Linked DNA regions of Homo sapiens: regions 1 and 2 are each linked to region 3. Evidence: fine-mapped expression QTL. A gene starts in region 3. Each other region holds a variant in brackets. All regions are shown on one strand. Distances are from middle to middle. Region 1 overlaps MTA3 (metastasis associated 1 family member 3). Region 2 overlaps MTA3 (metastasis associated 1 family member 3). Region 3 holds the start of HAAO (3-hydroxyanthranilate 3,4-dioxygenase).

The links. PIP is the estimated chance that this variant, and not a neighbour inherited with it, causes the effect.
Region 1: its variant is the best candidate, but not a certain one, in a credible set for the expression of HAAO in whole blood (INTERVAL, PIP 0.53).
Region 2: its variant is the best candidate, but not a certain one, in a credible set for the expression of HAAO in whole blood (TOPMed, PIP 0.71).

What each region holds. Positions count from the first base shown.
Region 1 is chr2:42,634,218-42,638,462 of GRCh38, reverse strand. All of the region lies in intron 4 of MTA3 (metastasis associated 1 family member 3), which reads right to left. Among named protein-coding and RNA genes, the nearest start is that of MTA3, 68 kb to the right of the region's middle. The variant T/C (reference allele first, on the strand shown) is at 2,305.
Region 2 is chr2:42,683,544-42,687,788 of GRCh38, reverse strand. The region is part of intron 9 of MTA3 (metastasis associated 1 family member 3); the gene reads right to left. Among named protein-coding and RNA genes, the nearest start is that of OXER1, 78 kb to the left of the region's middle. The variant C/T (reference allele first, on the strand shown) is at 1,546.
Region 3 is chr2:42,790,597-42,794,834 of GRCh38, reverse strand. It overlaps HAAO (3-hydroxyanthranilate 3,4-dioxygenase), which reads left to right and starts at 2,252. Exons shown (of 10, transcript NM_012205.3): 1 at 2,252-2,378. The coding sequence starts at 2,299. RefSeq lists silencers at 1,516-1,605, 1,686-1,785, 1,966-2,405.

The sequences.
Region 1 (4,245 bases), 160 kb after region 3:
GAGCTGTATTTGCACCACTGAACTCCAGCCTGGGCAAAAGAGCAAGACCCTGTCTCAAAAAAAAAAAAGAAAAGGTAACAATTATCTGACATGTTCTCATAACGGACAGAATTGCAACTAGGGAAATTGCTCTGCTGCCGTTAGCACATCGACAGCTGCCACAGAATATCTATGACCTGTGAATATGTGCTCACACATGCAATATGCTTAATAAATGAGGTTTCTAAAAATAGTTTTCACTTACTTTTTCCCCTCATTAACAGCTGACAAAGCAATATTTCTAACATTTGATACTCAATCACCTAGAAAAAAAAATCCCCCTTTTTAAAAAAATAAGTTCTCTAAAGTCAGATTTGCTTGTTTTAATGGGGAGGAGTAAAACCTGCTAAATTTTATTTTAATAGGTACTTTTTTTTAAGGCTAGTCAACTGAAACAGTGATAGTGGAGAAGAAAAAAAGAAATCTGTAACTGGTTATAAACACTACTGCACTATGCCCAGCCAATACCACTGTCTTTAATAGTCCCTTGACTTTTAAGGGTTAACGGACACTGAAAATTCAAACAAACAATATAGCATACTTTAAAAGTCTCTTCCATATGGTCTGAAATAAAAGATTTTAAATTATAAAACCTTTATTTTCATAATTATATTAGGAAATAAGGAAACACAGGTTATAATGAAGTACAAATTGTTTTTGGAAATGCAGTTTTTATACAAAGATGAAAGGATAATAAGTGATCTAAGTTTTAAATTTTTCTTTAATATAGCTATATTGTACATCTCCCCAAATTAAAAATGAAAATCTAACATTTACAATTTTCATGTACATACATTAACAGCTAAGAGGTTGAGTCAGAATTATTTTATGAAGTAAATATGAATATGTAATTAACACATATATTACCATGCCAAGAGTTGTTGATAAAAGTGGTTTAAAAAGAGATTTAAAGCGTTAGTTTCCTTTATGCCAAACAAATCTTGGCTCATAGATAAAAACATGGTAAATTTTAAGCTAACCCCAACCTAAAGGAACTATTATCAAATTCCGTATACAGATACCATAGGCAATTTATACTGAGTCTCAAGCAATGAACCTAATCATGTGTCATGTACGATATTTTAATCCTTAAATAATAAAGATGCCCAAGCATGATATGAAGTGTATCAAAGACCACAACACAAAGATCACTCCAGGCCCATATAATCACTCGTACTACTTTTCTACACAGAACCACAAAGGAGTACAGAATTGCTATAAAGAAAACCTACTTTCCCACAGGTCACTGAAAAGGTTTTCAAAGTATAATCTGTTTCAGAGACTGCGCAGGGTGCTGGGACACAAAGACATGTGAATAAATAATTACGACAAAACAAAGTCACACGTTCAACAGCAGGCGCTGATCAGCCTGGAATCTGCTACTTGCTTAATGGTATGTCCCATATAATCCTACAGACTGAAAAACGTAAAAATGTGCATACAGGTTATATATTTCTTTTATCTAAAGCTAGTACATATTTGTATAAATGAAAGAGGAGGGCCAGGCGCAGTGGCTCATGCCTATGATCCCAGCACTTTGGGAGGCCGATGCGGGCGGGTCACGAGGTCAGGAGTTCGAGACCAGCCTGGCCAATACGGTGAAGCCCTGTCTCTACTAAAAACACAAAAATTAGCTGGGAGTGGTAGCACACGCCTGTAGTCCCAGCTACTCTGGAGGCTGAGGCAGGAGAATGGCTTGAACCTGGGAGCCGGAGGTTGCAGTGAGCCGAGATCGCACCACTGCACTCCAGCCTGGTGACAGGGCGAAACCCCGTCTCAAAAAAAAAAAAAAAAAAAGAAAGAAAGAGAAAGAAGTTTAAATTAGTGATCATTTACCCCCTGCCTGTAGACTTTCTTCTTTTGTTTTGTTTTGTTTTGTTTTGAGAAAGGGTCTAGCTCTGTCACCCAGGCTGGAGTGCAGCGGCATAATCACAGTTCACTGCAGCCTCAACCTCCTGGACTCAATCAATCCTCCCACCTCAGCCTCCCCAGTAGCTGGGACTACAGGTGTGTGCCACACGCAGAGCTAATTTTTTTTAAATTCTTTGTAGAGATAGAGTTTTGCTATGTTTCCCAGGCTGCTCTCAAACTCCCTGGCTCAAGCGATCCTCCCACCTTGGCCTCCCAAAGGCTGGGATTATAGACATGAGCCACCACACTTGGCCCAAACTTTCTTTTACCTTGATACAACTTGAAGCGGGGACTACCCACTTAGAAAAGTGCAGATATCTTAGTGCTGTACCAGACTTACTGAATTTCAATGTC[T/C]TGGGATGGGTCCAGGAATCTACATGATTAACAAACATCACCAAGTTTAGTGAACTTTTTTAAGTTCACTAAACTTAAAAAACCATTCCTGGCCCGGCGCCGTGGCTCACGCCTGTAATCCTAGCATTCTATAAGGCTGAGGCGGGCAGATTGCCTGAGCTCAGGTATAGTTCAAGACCAGCCTGGGCAACATGGTGAAACTCCATCTCTACTAAAATATAAAAAATTAGCTGGGTGTGGTGGTGCACGCCTGTAATCCCAGCTACTGCGGAGGCTGTGGCACAAGAACTGCTTGAACCTGGGAGAAGGAGGTGCAGTGAGCCAAGATCATGCCACTGCACTCGAGCCTGGGTGACAGAGTGAAATTCTGTCTTGGGAAAAAAAAACAGAAAAATTCCTATAGATGCAGAGTTTGACATTAAACTTGCCTTGTTCAACAAACAGTATTATTGCTTCATTAAAGAAAGACATTTTTTTATTGACTTTACAAGTCTTACATTTGCCACAAACTCTAGATTCTTTTTTTTTTGAGATAGAGTCTCGCTCTGTTGCCCAGGCTGGAGTGCAAGTGGTGTGATCTTATCCTTACTGCAGCCTCCATCTCCTGGGTTCAAGTGATTCTGCTGACTCAGCCTCTCAACTAGCTGGGATTACAGATGCCCACCATCACACCCAGCTCATTTTTGTATTTTTAGTAAAGACGGGGTTTCACCATGTTGGTCAGGCTGGTCTCGAACTCCTAATTTCAGGTGATCCACCCGCCTCGGCCTCCCAAAATGCTGGGATTACAGACATGAGCCACTTTGCCCGGCCCAAGTTACAGATTCTTAATATTTCTTTGTATAAAGAACAGTGTCAAAATATTAGGTTCTGGGATTGGTAAATCAGTGAGTAGACAGTTTTGACAGCATTTAACACAATGAACACAATGAACAATCAAATAAAAAAATAAAGATCAGAGATGCAAAATGCTTTCAGAAGACTAGATTTCTCAACAGCAACCGCATAAAACAGAATAGCACAGATTCAAAATTCTGAGAGAAGTGATTTCCAAACCAAAATTCTATGTCTAAACAAATCATTGGCCAAGTGTGAGAAATATTTTTAGATATATGAGAATAAAAACTTTTACATTTTTAGAAGACTTAATCAAAAGGCAAAGGTAAAACAATGATAAACTCCATGGAAAACAAAAGTTTATACAAGAAAGAATACATAATACTGACATGTTCATAAAACACAAAGACTGTTTACTAAGTTAAATAAAAGTTGTGATAATATTAGAAACAGATGGCAAAGGGAATAGGGAAGAGAGAAGTAAAGGTAAATTCCTAAAACTGAAAAATTAATAGTAGGAATATAAGAACAGTATAAATGCCAGAAGCCACCATCGAGAGGAGTTGAAAATGACTACAGAGTTGGAACCAAGCAAATGACTGCCTTGGATATTATTAGACAGCCATATCCATACACTTTTAAAAAAATAACAAAATTTAAATTTAAAATGAAAGGGGGTGATATGGTTTGGCTCTGTGTCCCCACCCAAATCTCATCTTGAATTGTGATCCCCATAATCCTCACGTGTCGAGGGAGGGACCTAGTGGGTGGTGATTGGATCACGGGGGCAGTTTCATGATAGTGAGTTCTCACATGATCTGACGGTTTTATACATGTTTGACAGTTCCTCCTTCTCCTTCTCTCGCCTGCTGCCAAGTAAGACATGCCTGCTTCCCCTTCCACCATGATTGTAAGTTGCCTGAGTCTTCCCCAGCCATGCAGAACTGTGAATCAATTAAAAGTCTTTTCCTTACAAATTACCCAGTCTCGGGTAGTTCTATAGCAGTGTGAGAATAGACTAATAAAGAGAAATCCTAATTAAAATACCTAATTAAAATACATAAATTTCCATGACTACCACACCAAGGGAGCAAGGATTATGTA
Region 2 (4,245 bases), 110 kb after region 3:
ACATATGAGCTACAAAAATGGCTGGTGCTTCATTTCTGCTCTCCAAATCCTGCACTAGAATTTCTCATGGCCCACCCTAAAGGGCAACATACCGGGAAGGGAATTCTGGAAAATGTGGTTCAGTCTGGCTACACTGATATGTTATAAAGCTAACAAAGGTAGTTTCTTATAAAGTTAAACATATAGTTATCATGTAAGACCCAGCAACCCCACGGCTCATATTTCCCAAGAGAAACAAAAACTTAAGTTCACTAAAACTAGCATGCAAAATGTTTATAGCAACTTTATCCATAATCATCAAAAATCAGAAACAATTCAAATTCCCTTCAACAGGTGAATGAATAAACTGATTGTGGTACATTCACACAATGGAATAGTACTACTAGGCAGTGAAAATGAACGACTGATATATGCAGCAACACTGATGAATACCAGATGCATTATGTTAAGTAAAAGAAACCAAAATTAAAAAGTTACATACTACTAAACGATTCTACTTACACAGTGTTCAGAAAAAGGCAAAACTATAGGGATGGAGCATAAATCAGTGGTTGCCAGGATTAGGGCTAGGGTATTGTTGACTATAAAAGGGGAGACTTGACGGGAGAGGTGATGAAACTGTACTGTGTCTTGATTGTGGTGATGAGTTTTGTTTGTTTGTGGAGACAGAGTCTCATTCTAACACCTAGGCTAGAGTGCAGTGGCGCGATCTCAGCTCACTGCAACCTCTGCCTCCTGGGTTCAAGCAATTCTCATGCCTCAGCCTCCTGAGTAGCTGGTATTATAGGCATGTGCCACCAGGCCCAGCTAATTTTTGTATTTTTTTTTTTTTTGTAGAGATGGGGTTTCACCATATTGGCCAGCCTGGTCTCAAACTCCTGGCCTCAAGTGATCTGCCCATCTCAGCCTCCCTAAGTGCTTGGATTACAAGTGTGAGCCACAATGCCCAGCCCTTTTTTTTTGAGATGAAGTCTTGCTCCATCACCCAGGCTGGAGTGCAGTGGCGTGATCTCAGCTCACTGCAACCTTCACTTCCTGGGTTCCAGCGATTCTCCTGCCTCAGTCTATCGAGTAACTGGCATTACAGGCCTGCACTAGCATGCCCAGCTAATTGTTTTGTATTTTTAGTAGACACAGGGTTTCACCATGTTGGCCAGGCTGGTATCGAACTCATGACCTCAAGTGATCCGCCCGCCTCGGCCTCCCAAAGTGTTGGGATTACAGGCATGAGCCACCATGCCCAGACTGTTCTTTCTTTTTTTTTTTTAAGAGGCAGAGTCTACTATGTTGCCCAGGCTGGTCTTAAACTCCTGGGCTCAAGTGATCCTCCTGCCTCGGACTCCCAAAGTGCTGAGATTTCAGGTGTGACCCACCACACCCAGCCTGTGGTGATGATTATGGGAGTATGCATTTATAAAAACTCACAGAACTTTAACTGTAAAAAACTGTAAAGGAGTGAATTTTACTGTGTATAAATTTTGAAATAAGTTAAATTAAGCTTCGGAATAAAGCTATCGCTAACCACTAAATATAAAAATATCTATA[C/T]CCAAATATGTGCCTTCTACACAATTTGTTCTTAAATGTACAAACACACAATAATATATGCATTCACTTGGGAAAACTAAGACACTGGAAGCAGAAAATAATCAATGATCACTTTTGGGTAGTGGGATGAAACCACTTTAAAAAACTCACCATTATGACACAGTTGCTCAGTGCTCAGGTAAAGGTCTAGTATTTAAGCAGAGGAGGCCCAGGAGACTTTTTGTTGCATACACTACCTGACAGTTTCTAAAAGGACACTTCTTAAAACTTCATGTCATAAGAAATACATTGCCCCAACAACATCATGTACCTGTGATGGCATTATAGGAAATAACATTATTTGCATTTTATTTTCTACTAGGTTTATACATTACTTTTATAAGTATGGAGGGAAAGAGGGGATGATAATTTAAAAACAACAACTACCACAAAAAACACAAAACCCTTTGAGCAGTTAACACTCTGACATTCTATCCTGTTTATTTTAAGGGTTTGACACAAGTAGCCAATTCCAGTCTCCAAAATACAACAAATCTAATATGGACTGGCCCTTCAAGACTGGCCCTTCAACAACCATGACCTAAGGGGCAGTCTGCAGGGTTAAGATCCACATTTCCCAGACTCCCTTGCATCTAAGATTCTGGGTATAATTTAGGTTGCATCATAGATGCACTGGCAAGAGAGATGGATTTCGTACTAAAGGCACCCTGCCGGTGGGGTTCAAGGGAGAGACAGCACGTTGGAGCCACAGGTAGAGTGTTAGCTTCCTACTTCAGCAGTTAGGTTTCTAATCACAGCAGGGACGGCAGTATCCTTAGCTGGCCCATTCTGAAGTGTGACTTTCAAAGTCACAATCTTGGAGGCCCGATCTGATGTCTATTTCTTCATCTTCCCTAGTACTTAATGTTTCAATAAGCTCTCTATTGAAACAAGCTAGGGTAAAACAAAAGAAAAACTAATATATACCATGCTACAAATCTGTAATTTTGTTAGACCACAAAGACAACAAAAAAATCATCTAACAGTATTATTACTGTTATACTCATTTTCATAGTTAATTTTATCTGATACTGATGCCAGCCTCTATGTCCAAGTATATTGCACTAACCTACAGTTCACAGAGTTATCTTCTAGTCCTGTGTTAAGTGCCTAGGAGTGCTGTAAGTTTCACACCTCAGTGTTTACCTTGCTATCTGCTCTTTTCTCTCTTTACCTATTAGAGACCCAGCTAAAATGCCAGTTAACTCCATGAAGCCTCTTCCACTTTGGCACAAGGAATCCTTTTTAATATTCCTATACACTTGTTCATGTACTGACAGAAGTAATTAATTATATTTTACTTGGGTGTATATTTCAATCTCTTGATTTTAACTGTGAACTAATTCCTTGAAGTAAGGACCACATTCAATTTTTGTTGCATGCCTAGTGCCTTTTTGCAAGCCTGGCATGTTACAGGTACTCAGTAAATACCACCAGAGCACAGAATGAGGTATTACATTTGGTGCAGGGAAAAGTATTTTCACTTTAGTGTTTCTCAACTCCTACTCCTTTATCAGATCTGCAGGTTTTATTTATCTTTTTTGAATTTTCATTGAGCCTCACAGTGTAGATTTGATTTGTTAGGTTTCATTCTTTGCAATTTCTATGTAGCTGTAGCTCTATTATTTTAATAACTGTTATATTAATAACACTGCTCTATTGTTATTCTGACCATCTGAAGCTAAATACCAATGCACTTTAAATTTTCAGCTGCGCATCCTACAAATTTAAATCATGGCATGTAACAATTTAAGTATGAGTGAAGTTTTGCCAGAAGAACAAATTATCAGTGACACTAACAGTTTTAATTACTATGTCTGGGATTTAATTTATCAGCCCATATTGGTAAGTAATAACTTTGTGTCAAACAATTCAGTAAAGATGCAGCAACATAAAAGGCAGGCTATTGGCTCACATCAAATACGTAATGGTCTATAAAGATTCTATTTTCATAATTTAAAATAAAGGATGACTTCATAGAAAGCTATTTATGAAAATCTCAAATGGAAATTTCACCATTTCAAAGGAACTATAAGTTTAACTAAAGACAGTAAGTCCATAAACACAAAGACAAAACAAAGTACATACTATAGTTAGACAAGATGACCTGGTATTTACCCCACTGCATGGGGTAAGTAAGTGAGGTGATGAATGTGTTAATTGTGGTAATCATTTCACAATGTATATGTATATCAAATCATCATATTGTATACCTTGAAAATATGTATTTTCTACTTGTCAATTATACCTCAGTAAAGCTGAGGAAAAAAAAATTTTTAATAATAAAAAATATACATAGGATACTCAGGGGTCCCCAACCCCCAGGTCATGGACTGGTTAGGAACTGGGCTGCACAGCAGGTGTTGAATGGACAAGCGAGCGAAGCTTCATCTGTATTTACAGCCACTCCCCATTACTCCCACTGCCCCCTGAGGTCTGCCCCGTCAGATCAGCAGCGGCATTAGATTCTCACGGGAGCATGAACCCTATTGTGAACTGTGCATGCGAGGGATCTAGGTAGCGTACTTCTTATGAGAATCTAATGCCTAATGATCTATCACTATCTCCCATTACCCCCAGATGGGACTGTCTAGTTGCAGAAAAACAAGCTCAGAGGTCTCACTGATTCTCCATTATGGTGAGTCGTATAATTATTATATA
Region 3 (4,238 bases):
GAGACAGAAAGGCAGAGACAAAACAAGGTGGGCTGGGAAAGGGATTCACTGGAGCAACGAGTTCAGTGTATGGAAGAATTGAAGGGTCAGATAGTTATTACCAGCCAGGTTCAGCAAAGCCTAGAAGGATCTGCTGGTCTCAGTGACCTGGGCAGGCAAACACCACCCAGCGGAGGCCAGGGGAAGACACCAGCAAGCAGGCCAGATCCTTTGAGCTTGGATCGTGGGGTAGATTCTATTTGCTTCTAATCCTTTAGTGCAGATGAGCTCCTGTGTGCAGAGGAGAGAGGTGGCTCCTAGAAGCGGGTAAATTCCAGAAACTACAAGGGGCCCAACAGTCAGTATCCAGAAGGATTCCAGATGGTTCCAACTCAACAATGCCAGAATACTCACAACATAGCAACTGTCCGTTTTCTGAACATTGGAGTCCAGTGGTGCCTGAGCCAGGAGGCTTGCCAATTCAGTAGACCAGACGTGGTATTTGCTCTACACAGCACAAATCAGAGGGCATATTTGATAGTGATAACATAGCAGTCATTTAGCTTGTGTAGAGGGTTACTCGGGATATTTCAGACCCCCAAAATTCTACTTGTGGCCTTAATTATTCACATTATTTGATCACATCAGTTAAAATACAGAGTACCTATCATTCTTTCCTTTGCACTATGGTAACGGAACATCTGTTGGGCTGAAATCAATTTTTTCTCCTTTTTGTGTGAATTCATTGATGCCTTCATCCACCCACTCACCCATCCCTCCATTTAACTAACACTCAAAGCAAACTTAACACATCTCAGATCCTCAGTGCTTCATGTGTCATTGTTTACGTCTCCTCTGATTACTTGTAGATGAGAAAAATAAAGAAGGTGGTGTGAGTTACTTGGGTGCAAAACGATATTCTAGTTTTGCACTAGAAGTGCTCAGCTAAAACTGTGCTAGATAAATAACTAAAAAAAAGGAGAGAGAAAAATGAAAAAAAAAAAAAGAGCGTCAGAGAGGAAACGGGAGGGTCTCAGTGGGGAATTCGGCTTCCTGTCGTCTGGGTTTTGATTTTGAGTTGTACTAGAGGAGTCTTTATGTCTGGAATGCTGAGAAAACCAGCCCAGGCCAGGCGGGCTGTGAGGGCAGGATTTAGAGGCGTTTAGTTTCTTAAACTCTATAGTCTGGATTCCGGTGTCAGGGGCCTGAGCCATTTTCCTCCTCCCCTACCCGTCAGCTCCCACTCCCTCCAAACTTCCTAAGAAAGTTCTGAGTCCTGCAGAAAGACAGGCTTCTCCATCTTCCACACCCGCGCAGATTTCTCTTTCCTCACACATGCACGCCCAGGCCCAGCGCCCCAGCCCCTCACCCCCAGGATAACTGTTAGAGTCTCTCACACGGGGCTGTCATCATTAACACCCCGAGATTCCCGAGGGCTAGGACACTGAGGCCGGTGTCCACATCTGCCAAATTCCTCCCATAGCTGCGTGCGAACTGAGTATGTTCCTAAGACGCCTAAGGAGTTCAGCACGGGGCTCGGGGTCCACTGCGACACTGCGCGGACAGCGGCCGCTCGGCTGGGCCTCAGGTGGGGAGGGCTCGCGGTCCTGCCCTGAGCCCGGGCTCCGCAGCTCGGCGCCTGCACCGCTCCCCTCGCCGAGCCCGCGGCGGAGTCTGCCGGCCGCACGCAGCAGGTCTGGGGCTCACCTTGAATCGGGACCTGCGGGGACCGCCGTGCGGCTTCCCGCTGGGTGAGCGCCGCAGCCCTGAGTGGCGGGGCAGTCATTCCCCTTTTCCAGATGGGAAAGCCAAATCTTGAGCCCAGCGCCAGCACCGTGTTCTCAGGTGCTGGGACTTCCAACCCGCGATCTCCTCACTGTAGTATTTCTGGGAACCTTCCCTGGGATTCCCCTCGGGGCGTAGAGGGAAGGAACGTCTGGGGACAAGCGTCCAGGAAGGGTCTGGATTCTTTGTCCTCCGCCGGGAGCAGGCCCCACCGCAGGCGCCAGTGTGTGGGGCGCCCCGGAGACGGTGGCGGGGACCGAGCCCCTGCCCCGCGGAGAAGCAGAGGGCGCGGGACGCCGTTCCCCAGCGCTGCCGCCGCCGCGCTCGCCAGGGCCTGGAGTGGCGCGGAGGGCGGCGGGCTCAGACCAAAGTCCACCAGGGGGCAAAGTCCGCGGGCCCCAAGCCCCCACCACGGGGTCGCGGGGGTTTGCTCCGCCTCGTGAGCTTGGGATTCTGGTTAAAAAGGCGGCTGGGCGGAGCTGCGGGCCTCCGACGGCGGGAGGACAGCGCTGCGAGGAGGCGCCCGGGACAGTCATGGAGCGCCGCCTGGGAGTGAGGGCCTGGGTGAAGGAGAACCGGGGCTCCTTCCAGCCCCCGGTCTGCAACAAGCTCATGTGAGTCCAGCACCCCCATGGCCGCCCCCTGCCCTCGCCTCCTCCCCCTCCTCCATCTGCGCCCTCACCTTCCAGCTCCGAGTTCCTGGACCCAGAAGCTTGCAGAAGGACCGCTTTAATCTCTTGGTTCTTGGGGGAAGATGGAGACAGGCTGTTCCGGTTCCACCACATCGGTCTGTTCCTCTTTCTTGTGACTGTGGCCTTGACTTCTGAAGAAGGCTGAGCTGGTTCTCAGGCTGTAGGAGATGACATGACAGGGTGCACCTCTCCTTCCAGGGCTGAGAAACAATTCTCCAACCCCAAGTGACACTGTGCATTTTGGGAAAACTCAAAAGTGTGGGGAGGGTGGTTTTCAAGGCAGAAATGCACTAGAATGTAGGCCTGGGGGCAGCCAAATCATACACCCCAACCCTGTCCCAGAAGCCACAGGCAAAGGGGGAGGCAGAGAATCCGCTCCTTTGGGAAGATCTTGATGTCTTGCTTTTTTCAGGGCCCCTCTATGCAGGTGTGCACGAACACACACACACACACACCACACCAGACCCTCCCTAGGCCACCTCTGCCAGTAGCCTCTGCCTGCAGCACCCAACAGGGTTGGCCATCCAGCTGCCATCTTTCTCAGGCAGACCTCTCAGGCCCTCCCCTGTGGTATGGTCACCTCCCTCATCCCCCCAGTTCCATGGCGGGGCCCCACATGCCAGCTAGATCAAGGTTTACATTCCCCATTTTTGCTGTGTCCACAGGACATGGTCAGTAGGGTGGCACCTCAAGGCAAACAGCAGGCCCAGGACTATGCCAAGTGTTTTTACATCATCTCATCTCATTCTCACAGTAGCACCGTGAGGGGGGATTTTCATAAGTAACTTTTCTAGTGTCACGGAGCGCCTGTGCGATAGGCTCCAGACTCAACCCACGGAGCAGTTCGACTCCAGAGTCCACGCACACTCTTGGTTACCATGCAATACCACATGGCCAACAGTCAATATCTCCCCAAAGATCTCTTCTATCACTGTTGTTGCCCACCCCCAATTAAAGATGTAGCATCATCTTTGCCTCCTTCCAACACTTCATCCCCATCTGCAGTCGCTCCTTCTCAGTCCTCCCTTCGCTCCCCCTGAGGTCTCGCGTCCATCTGCCCGGGCCTCTCCCTAGCATTTGGTGGTTTGCTGGCATCATTGGTATTCTTGCTTCTGCTGTACCACGCCCACCTCCACCTTCGTCTTCACAAGGCAGTCTCCTTGTGTGTGTGTCTGTGTCCAAATTTCCCTCTTTTAAAAGAACACCAGACATATTGGATCAGGGGCTCACCCTACTCCAGGATGACCTCATCCTAACCTAACTACATCTCAAGGACCCTATTCCAAATAAGGTCACATTCTGCAGTACTGGGCGTTAGGACTTCAACATATAAATTTTACAGGAGGGGTTACTATTCAGCAAGGTGAGAAGCTGCTGAAGCAAGCAAGGTGAGAAGCTGCTGAAGAGTTCTGGGCAGAGGAGGGGCAGGTCTGGTTTATGCATTCTGACTGATGGGTTGAAAGAATTCTTGAGTGGAGTTGTTTAAGAATTGTCTGTATGTACCTAAATTACATCTCAGTGAAGTTGATTTTAAAAAACAACTTTCAAGCCGGGCGCAGTGGCTCATGCCTGTAATCCCAGCACTTTGGGAGGCTGAGGTGGGTGGATCATTTGGGGTCAGGAGTTCAAGACCAGACTGGCCAACATGGTGAAACCCCGTCTCTGCTAAAAATACAAAAATTACCTGGGCGTGGTGGCACGCGCCTGTAGTCCCAGCTACTCAGGAGGCCGAGGCAGGAGAATTGCTTGAACCCGGGAGGTGGAGGCTGCACTGAGCCGAAG